Linked DNA regions of Homo sapiens. The protein of the gene in region 2 binds, or shares a complex with, the protein of the main gene of each other region. Each region holds a gene or a part of one and is shown on either strand. Other genes may lie near its edges.

Region 1 (4,259 bases), on a different chromosome or scaffold from region 2:
CCTAAGCACGCTCTGCAGTGTCAGCATCACCTGGCAGTATGCTAGAAATTAGAAATGCAAATTCATGAGCACCAGCCCAGACCCATTGAGTCGGAAATTCTGAGGGTGGGGCCCAAGAATGTGAGTTTCAACAAGTTTGAGAAGGACTGCGTCTCCTATATGAAATGGAAAACAGCTGCTCATCCTCTGTATCCTTGCATAATAAAAAATGATTAGTGTCACTATGCCACCATTTCCTCAGCGAAATAATTTCCATCCCCCCACCGCCTCCGAGGGTCTTGCACTCTCACCCAGGCTGGAGTGCACTGGTGCAATCACAACCCACAGCAGCCTTGTCCTCTCGGGCTCAAGCAATCCTCCCACCTCAGCTTCCTGAGTAGCTTGGGACTGCAGGCGCAACCACCACGCCCGGCTAATACGGCTAATATTATTTTTTCATTTTTTGGAGAGACGGGGTCTCGCTATGTTGCCCAGGCTGGTCTGGAACTCTTGGGCTCAAGGGATCCTTGTGCCTCGGCTTCACAAAGTGCTGGGATTACAGGCGTGAGCCGCCGCGCCCGGCTCTAAATAATTTCTTATCGCCCTCCCTCAGTTTGTTTTTCCTGTTATCGGGTCACCCACACATTCCACAATTGTCAAATAGGTGAGGGCACAGGTACGGAAGCGTCCCGCATTCCCTCCAGATTTTATCACGCTGAGACACAAAGAGAAAAATAGCTCCTGGCGACCGCATGAAAACCCCGATTTCAAAACAGCCACATGCAGTTTAATTTCCTTAAAAGCTTAGCCGGAAAAGGTTTCTGTGGCTTGCGACCCCAGCTGGGCTTGAGAGAAGGCTCTGCACACTGGGGCGGGGGCGGGCACAAGGTGATCGGAGGGAGGGGGATGACTCGCAGTTGTGTTTTGAGTGGTTGCCTTGGGTTATCTTGTTCCTCCAGCACACACACACTCAGTTTCTTGTCATAAGGGGAACCCTGTTATTTTGTAGACAAAAAGTGACAGAAGCAACTTTCGAAGCAAAAAAAAAAAAAAAACAAAAAAAAACAAAACCAAAAAGACGAAGAAGAAGAACAAAAGTCAACGTGAAATCTCCCCAGAGGAAAAGGAACCGCGCTGTTTGTCCCTCAGTAACTGAGCAACACCCCGGACACGAAGGGCTCCCTGTGACTTCTGCGGTTTTTCTTGCACTTCTCCGCGTTGGTTCACTTCCACCCTCGAAACTCTCCAGAAGCGAGAAATAAGGCGGGGTGGCCGCCACCCCCAGGCCACCAGCTGTGCGGGGGCCCCAGCTGCAGGGGGTCCCGGCCCAGCGTCCCTCTCGGCCCCTTCCCTCTCCCCCGGGGGAGAAGGGGCGGGTCCACGCGGCCTGGGCGCTGCGCCCGACACGCGGTAGGGGTCGCTGCGTCTCGGCGCGCGCTCCCACCGCGGTGAATAACGGGGCCTGGCTGGAGGAGAAAGGAAACCTGCTGCGGGAGGCGGCGGCGACCGGCCAGGGAGCGAGGGAGGAGAGTTCACTTTTACTTCAGTGTCAGCGCGCGGCGGCCGTGGCTGGCTCTGGCGAGAGAGCACCGAGGGAGTGGGTCGCAGATCTTCGGGCGGCTAGGGGAAATCGGCGAGAGGCGGGATCCGAGCGCGCCGGCGGGGCGCAGAGCCCGCGAGCCTGGCCAGCGAGGGTAGCCGCGGGGGGCGCGCCCCGGGCGGGCCCCCGGAGACGCGCAGGATGCCACACGAAGAGCTGCCGTCGCTGCAGAGACCCCGCTATGGCTGTAAGTGCGCCGGGCGCGCGGGGTTCCTGCTGGCCTTGGGGAGCTCCCTCCCCGAGGACGGCGTTGGAGAAGCCGAGGGAGCCGGTTGCGCGGCGCAGAGGAAATTGGAAGGCAGCAACTGCGCGGCTGGCAAAGTTGGGAGCTGGAGTTGCAAAGGGCAGTGAATCGCGTCCCCCCGCTCCTCCCGCCCCCCAATTCCTAATATCCAGCTGGCAACCCAGACCCTCCACTCCGCATACCCAAACGGGGTGCGCGGGCAGTGCGGGGATTGCGCTCTGGGACAGACCAGGTTGGGATTTTAGGGGTATCAGGTGAGGAGTCCGCGGAGCTCCGGGTCGCCGCCGGCTTGGGCCAGGGGGTGGCGTAAGGCACCGGATTCTTCCAACCCAGAAGGGGAGGAAAGTTTGTTTGCTGTGGCTACAGGTGGGCACCGCAAGTAGGGCGCCGGCGCACTCTGCTAGTGCAAAGCCGGCTTGACTGGAAGGGCGGGAGTCTCCTCCTGTCCCGCGCCCTCGAACTTCACCTGACCCGCTAGAGCCATTGGCCTCACAGGTGTAAGTCCCTCCCCTCTGAAACCCCCCAACCCCTTTCCCCCCCGCTCCCCTCGCGCGGGAGGATTGCTGTGTGGAGAGGACGCGGCACTAGGCTCCGGGGAATCCGGCGGGAGCCCGCGTGACTTGAACGAGATGGTGTCGATTACCCAGCCAGGGGCTGCCCTCGGAAATAGGTTGCTTTGGCCGATCGTGAGTGGATGGAGCCAGATTAACACCAACCACGTGGCTTCATGTGCAGAGTTCAGAGTCCTAAACATGTGCCAGGAAGCATTTCCTTTAAAACAAACAGAAAGTTGGCCTGCTGTCTCTCCAAGGTGGCCCTGTCAGTGAACCCAAGGCCGAAGACCACAGGTTAATCTTTGCCCAGGCTGGCCTTGGTGGCAGAGGTACCAGGTTTGGGTTAAGGTGGTGATACCTTCAGCAGGGTGTTTTGTTTGTGTGTGTGTGTGGTTTTGGATGGTGCGTAAGGCCACTGACTTGCTTAACTGAAAAAGGGCTCCTCAACTTGTGTAGGTTCTTTCCCCTCCTCCCCGCTGGCGTGTCAAAGATGGGAGGTTATCTTTCCTGTGTTACCCTTGCAGTGAGGGGGAGGCCTGAGGACTACAGCCTCTGTACTCTAATGCATTCAGCAGTTGACTGAGACCCAGCTTTTTGCCTTTTGGTAAACCACACAGACAGCAGAGCCTCTTGGGTTCAAGAGGGAACGCTGTGCTCATTCAGTGTTTGCAGTGCCAACCTCAGGTGGGACCCAGCTTTTTGCCTTTTGGTAAACCACAGATACAGCAGAGCCCGTTGGGTTCAAGGAGGAATGCTGTGCTCATTCAGTGTTTGCAGTGCCAACCTCAGGTTGGTGGAAGTACTTTAATGTGACCAGCTCTCAGAATATATGGTGGCTTCACTGTGTCAAATGATAAGATAACCACAAACTTCTGCAAACTAGGTGAATCTACATGAACAAATGATTTCTTGCTATCACATGATTGATGTCGGCCCTCATGAGCAATAAATAGTGCAAAATTTCCGTGAATGTGGTACATGAATGCAGCATTTCTGTCAGTCCCTGCATGTGCATCTGTGATGCTGCTTGATTTTCACGGAATAAATCTGTGTTTTAAGTGCACTCCAGAAGAAGCTATCAAGGGAGTCCAGATCTGGCAAGCCTGAAGCCCACTCCACAGGGCCGCTTTCTTTGGAAATCTTCATCCAGCTTTCTTCACCAATGTGGTGTAAGGGGGTGGTGTGCCATCTTGTTGGAATCACTCCCGGTTACTTTCCCTCCACTCATCAAGTGCTGGCATTCAAGTTGGTCACTTAACACTGTCAAAATGGAAAATATTTGCCTATGTTTCCAGACTTTCTTGTCACCCTGAAATATTAAGGCTTTAATATGACAGTTATCTCATTAAAATGAACACTTTTATAATTTTGGTTTATGAATGGTGTATTTTCAGTGTATTCAGAACATGATATCTAGCAGAATAGATTTTGGCGTTAATAGGCATTACCTAACATTACCTATTCATGCAGAAGAGGGCTATTTGGTGTGTTAGTGTAATTTCTGGTTGTTGTTGGCTTTCTGAGCCTCCTATCAACATGAGACTGAAAATCGTGCTGTGAGCTCTTCATGGGAAGGCTAGGGAAGGATAACACAGGATTGTCCTTGCTCTGTTGTGTTCTAGGGCTGTGCTTTTTCTTGTTTATTGGTTTGGTAAATACAGTTTCAGTAAAACCTCAAATTATAAGAAACAGGTGTTACCCCTAGCATTTAAAAATAAAGTAGCAATACATTGTAATTTCAGTTCTAGTGCTGAACGTTCTGAGTATAAGATGTTTGAGACTGGGCTTTAAACACAACTTTTTGGTAGTTTGAATTAAGTTGTCTATTGCTTATTTTGGGTCTGAGCTTCTGTTCTGCTCTCTCTCCTACCCACTTGACTCC
Region 2 (3,500 bases):
ATTACACTAGCATAAGTAGACTTTGGAATGGAAGCCAGCTTTTCTGATTCTTAGTCTAGTTTTGGATATGAACAATCTAGTAAAGGAGGGTTGTTTTTGAGTCTCTTAAGTGTGATTTAAGAAAATAATCTGTTTGGTTTGAGAGCTTAACCACATTCATTCAATTTCTTTGTTCCTGTTTTTAAGAACCGACTTTCCTTTAACTGTCATCTCCCTCATGCCCTTGCTTCTCTTCTTTACATTTAAATAAGCTCTGGAACAATCTGTTAAAACATAAGTCAGAAAATCAGAGTAGGTACCTAAAAGTTAAGTAGGGCTGGTCTTAAAATGTGGCATTCTTCTCCTAGTTGGAAAGCTTTGCTTTTCTTTTTATAGATATCATTTAATTTTAAAATTTTTACTGTAAATTGACAGATTATAGTTGTATATGAAAGCATTGCTTTTCAATTGTAAATTAATTCTAAAGACTCCAGAATTTGTGTTGGGTCTTTTCCCATTTAGCATTGTTAAACCTCCCATTTTCACAAATAACTTCGTACAACCGATATTAGCATATGCTTTACTGAATTTGATAAGGGTTTTATGGTCTATTTACATATTAAGCATCTTGTTAAAGAAGATGTCTTAGATCATGCAGTTTGTGCCCAATAACATGAATTTTACTCATAAAATTCCCAGCTGGCTGGGTGCAGTGGCTCACACCTGTAATTCCAGGACTTTGGGAGGCCGAGGCAGGTGGATCATGAGGTCAGGAGTTTGAGACCAGCCTGGCCAACATAGTGAAACTCTGTCTCTACTAAAAATACAAAAATTAGCTGGGTGTGGTGGCATGCACCTGTAGTCCCAGCTACTCAGGAGGCTGAGGTGGGAGAATCGCTTGATCCCAGGAGGCAGAGGTTGCAGTGAGCCGAGACCATGCCATTGCACTCCAGCCTGGATGACGCAGTGAGACTCTGTCTCAAAAAAAAACTTCCCAGCAAATAATCTGCCAGCTTTTTCTTGGACACTTTGAGTACTTTGAGGGAACCGTTATTTCTCTCAAATGGGCTTGTTTATAACAAGGCTCATCTTTTCTAGGACTCTGAAAGGAAGAAAGGTCATGGATCTAGGATATTTTATTTCTAGATGAAAAGGAAATGGTCTATGAAGAAGTAGTTTCTTAGGAATCAGATTGAATGTTGAGGTAGACCACTGTCTGAAAAGTTTCAAACTTGAACAGGTTCATTTTGTGTAGCTAGAGGACTCTGCTCCTGTGACACCTCTAAACCTTCTCTGGCTCTTTATCCAGGCTGCTGGGGTAGAGCAGAAATCTCAGAACACATCCTTTGTCTTTTTCCAGGAATCATTTAGCTCATGCAAGGACTGGTTGGCAAGATTGGTTATATAAGGATGATGGATGGACTAGGGGACGATTAAGTCTTAGCAAGGAAACACTGCCTTAGCTTAAGAGTTGTCCTGTCCCATTTTAACTCTCTCCTTGCACACTAACAGTGTTGTATTTTTTTGTTTTTAGGTTTTTGACAACTATGCAGTCACAGTTATGATTGGTGGAGAACCATATACTCTTGGACTTTTTGATACTGCAGGTGAAAACTTAATGTCTTTTATACTGTTTTGATCTTTAACAGTTGCTAGTTGTCTGTCTCTTGTGGACATTTTGAGAAACTAGCACATGAGCAAAGTACTTGCCTTTTGTTATTAGTTAGCAGGATTGAATATAATGATTGTCGATGCTTGACCAAGGAGCAGTCCCAGACCTGGGTCGGCAAATAGGAGTTTGGAGTACCCTGGGTGAACAGTGTAGTAGATGAAGTAGAGTGAGACTAGAGTGCATCATACAAGCTCCAAATTGAACTAAAATCCTGATGCGTGCACCTTGCAGAGAACTGGGGACTGCATTAGTGGTTGGGGAGGGACTAAGGGAATGAATTCATAGGAATCATGCCCACTGATTCTCTCCCTTCACCCCTACCTGCTCCTTTTTAAAGCCTAGAGTTTCCTAAATATGCCTAAGGTTATAAGGTCATAAGCCATTTACAGTATTTATTATTATTACTCTCTTGATATTTGAAGGCATATTCAATTTATGTGTCTAATAACATGTTTAGTTTCTTACGATAGATAGCTTATTTTAAACTGTATCTGAAAATATTTTGAGAGTGAACTATTATCTGCTCACAGTATTGACATTTGTCAGCTATCCAAATTGTAAGAACAAATTACTTTCTTCCTTAAATGTACCTAATTCCTCAGTGCTATTTCTTGTTTTCAAGAGTGGCTGCACATCTTAATTTCTGACTTTTCTCTATGTGCCGTCTTATTATCAGCTCAGTTAGCCAGAGGAAAATCTCAGAAAGATATCCTTTAGAGTATCTTTAGAATGTAGGAATTCTAAACTTTGTGCTTTGAGTTACTGTTACTGTTTGCAAGTTAACATGTTGCTTCCATGGAATGTGGTGTTACACTGTGTACCACGAGGAACTATTTGGATTTAATTGAGAACGTGAAATGGAGAGACAGTAAAGATTAGAGAAATTTTTAATACATTAAAATCATAAAAGTAATGGTATATTAAATTTGGAATATAGAGAAAACAATGACCCATAATGTCATGATAAATGAGGGGTTTTCTTCTGTGTTCATTTGTGTCCAAAGGCACAGAGAAAATTTTTATTTTTTTTTTTTGTTGAGATGGAGTTTTGCTGTTGTTGCCCAGGCTGGAGTGCAATGGTGCAATCTCGGCTCACCGCAACCTCCGCCTCCCAGGTTCAAGCGATTCTTCTGCCTCAGCCTTCTGAGTAGCTGGGATTACAGGCATGCGCCACCATACCCGGCTAATTTTTTTGTATTTTAGTAGAGGTAGGGTTTCTCCATGTTGGTCAGGCTGGTCTCGAACTTCTGACCTCAGGTGATCCGCCCGCCTTGGCCTCCCAAAGTGCTGGGATTACAGGTGTGAACCACTGCGCCTGGCGAGAAAAGATAATTTATGGCTACTTGTGGTTGAAAATTAGTATTTTCAGATTTCAAAGTTTATTATTTATAAGCCTTTACATTTTCTGGCGAGTACTTTTGAAAGCTTTTTTGATGCGTAGTGCAATAAAAATCATTTTAAGGCCAGGCGCGGTGGCTCACGCCTGTAATTGCAGCACTTTGGGAGGCTGAGACAGGCAGTTCACCTGAGGTCAGGAGTTTGAGACCAGCCTGGCCAGTATGGTGAAACCCCATCTCTACTAAAAATACAAAAATTAGCCCAGTGTAGTGGTGTATGCCTGTTAAGTCCCAGCTACTTGGGAGGCTGAGACAGGAAAATTGCTTGAACCCAGGGGGCGGAGGTTGCAGTGAGCCGAGATTCTGCCACTGCCCTCCAGCCTGGCTGACAGAGTGAGACTCCGTCTTTAAAAAAAAAAAAATCGTTTTAAGTGTTCAGTGTGATGCATTTTGCTGACCCTCCACCATAATAAAATGTGTAACATTTTTATCACCCCTCAAATTTTCTGTGG

Evidence for each region. The genes of interacting proteins can lie anywhere in the genome.
Region 1: the proteins of CDC42 (region 2) and IQGAP2 are in contact, whole or in part, in a crystal structure (PDB 5CJP), measured with the Homo sapiens proteins. Residues at the interface, in NP_001034891.1 of Homo sapiens: Gly12, Ala13, Ile21, Thr25, Asn26, Lys27, Phe28, Pro29, Ser30, Glu31, Tyr32, Val33, Pro34, Val36, Phe37, Asp38, Tyr40, Phe56, Tyr64, Leu70, Gln74, Gln116, Leu119, Asp122, Pro123, Ser124, Thr125, Glu127, Lys128, Lys131; in NP_006624.3 of Homo sapiens: Gln893, Thr894, Asn924, Tyr925, Ser927, Asn928, Gln929, Arg930, Glu931, Glu932, Arg976, Gly977, Asn979, Gln983, Asp1067, Leu1068, Leu1069, Pro1070, Tyr1071, Lys1191, Phe1192, Asn1193, Lys1196, Tyr1197, Leu1200, Val1201, Thr1202, Val1203, Ser1204, Lys1205.

The regions. Positions count from the first base shown.
Region 1 is NC_000005.10:76,401,826-76,406,084, forward strand, and holds the start of IQGAP2 (ras GTPase-activating-like protein IQGAP2), read left to right. Parts: upstream 1-1,459; 5' UTR 1,460-1,720; coding exon 1,721-1,766; intron 1,767-2,498; exon of another isoform or gene 2,499-2,550; coding exon of another isoform or gene 2,551-2,671; exon of another isoform or gene 2,672-2,706; intron 2,707-4,259. UniProt on the Homo sapiens protein: Binds to activated CDC42 and RAC1 but does not seem to stimulate their GTPase activity. Associates with calmodulin.
Region 2 is NC_000001.11:22,080,209-22,083,708, forward strand, and holds part of CDC42 (cell division control protein 42 homolog isoform 1 precursor), read left to right. Parts: intron 1-1,513; coding exon 1,514-1,586; intron 1,587-3,500. UniProt on the Homo sapiens protein: Plasma membrane-associated small GTPase which cycles between an active GTP-bound and an inactive GDP-bound state. In active state binds to a variety of effector proteins to regulate cellular responses. Involved in epithelial cell polarization processes.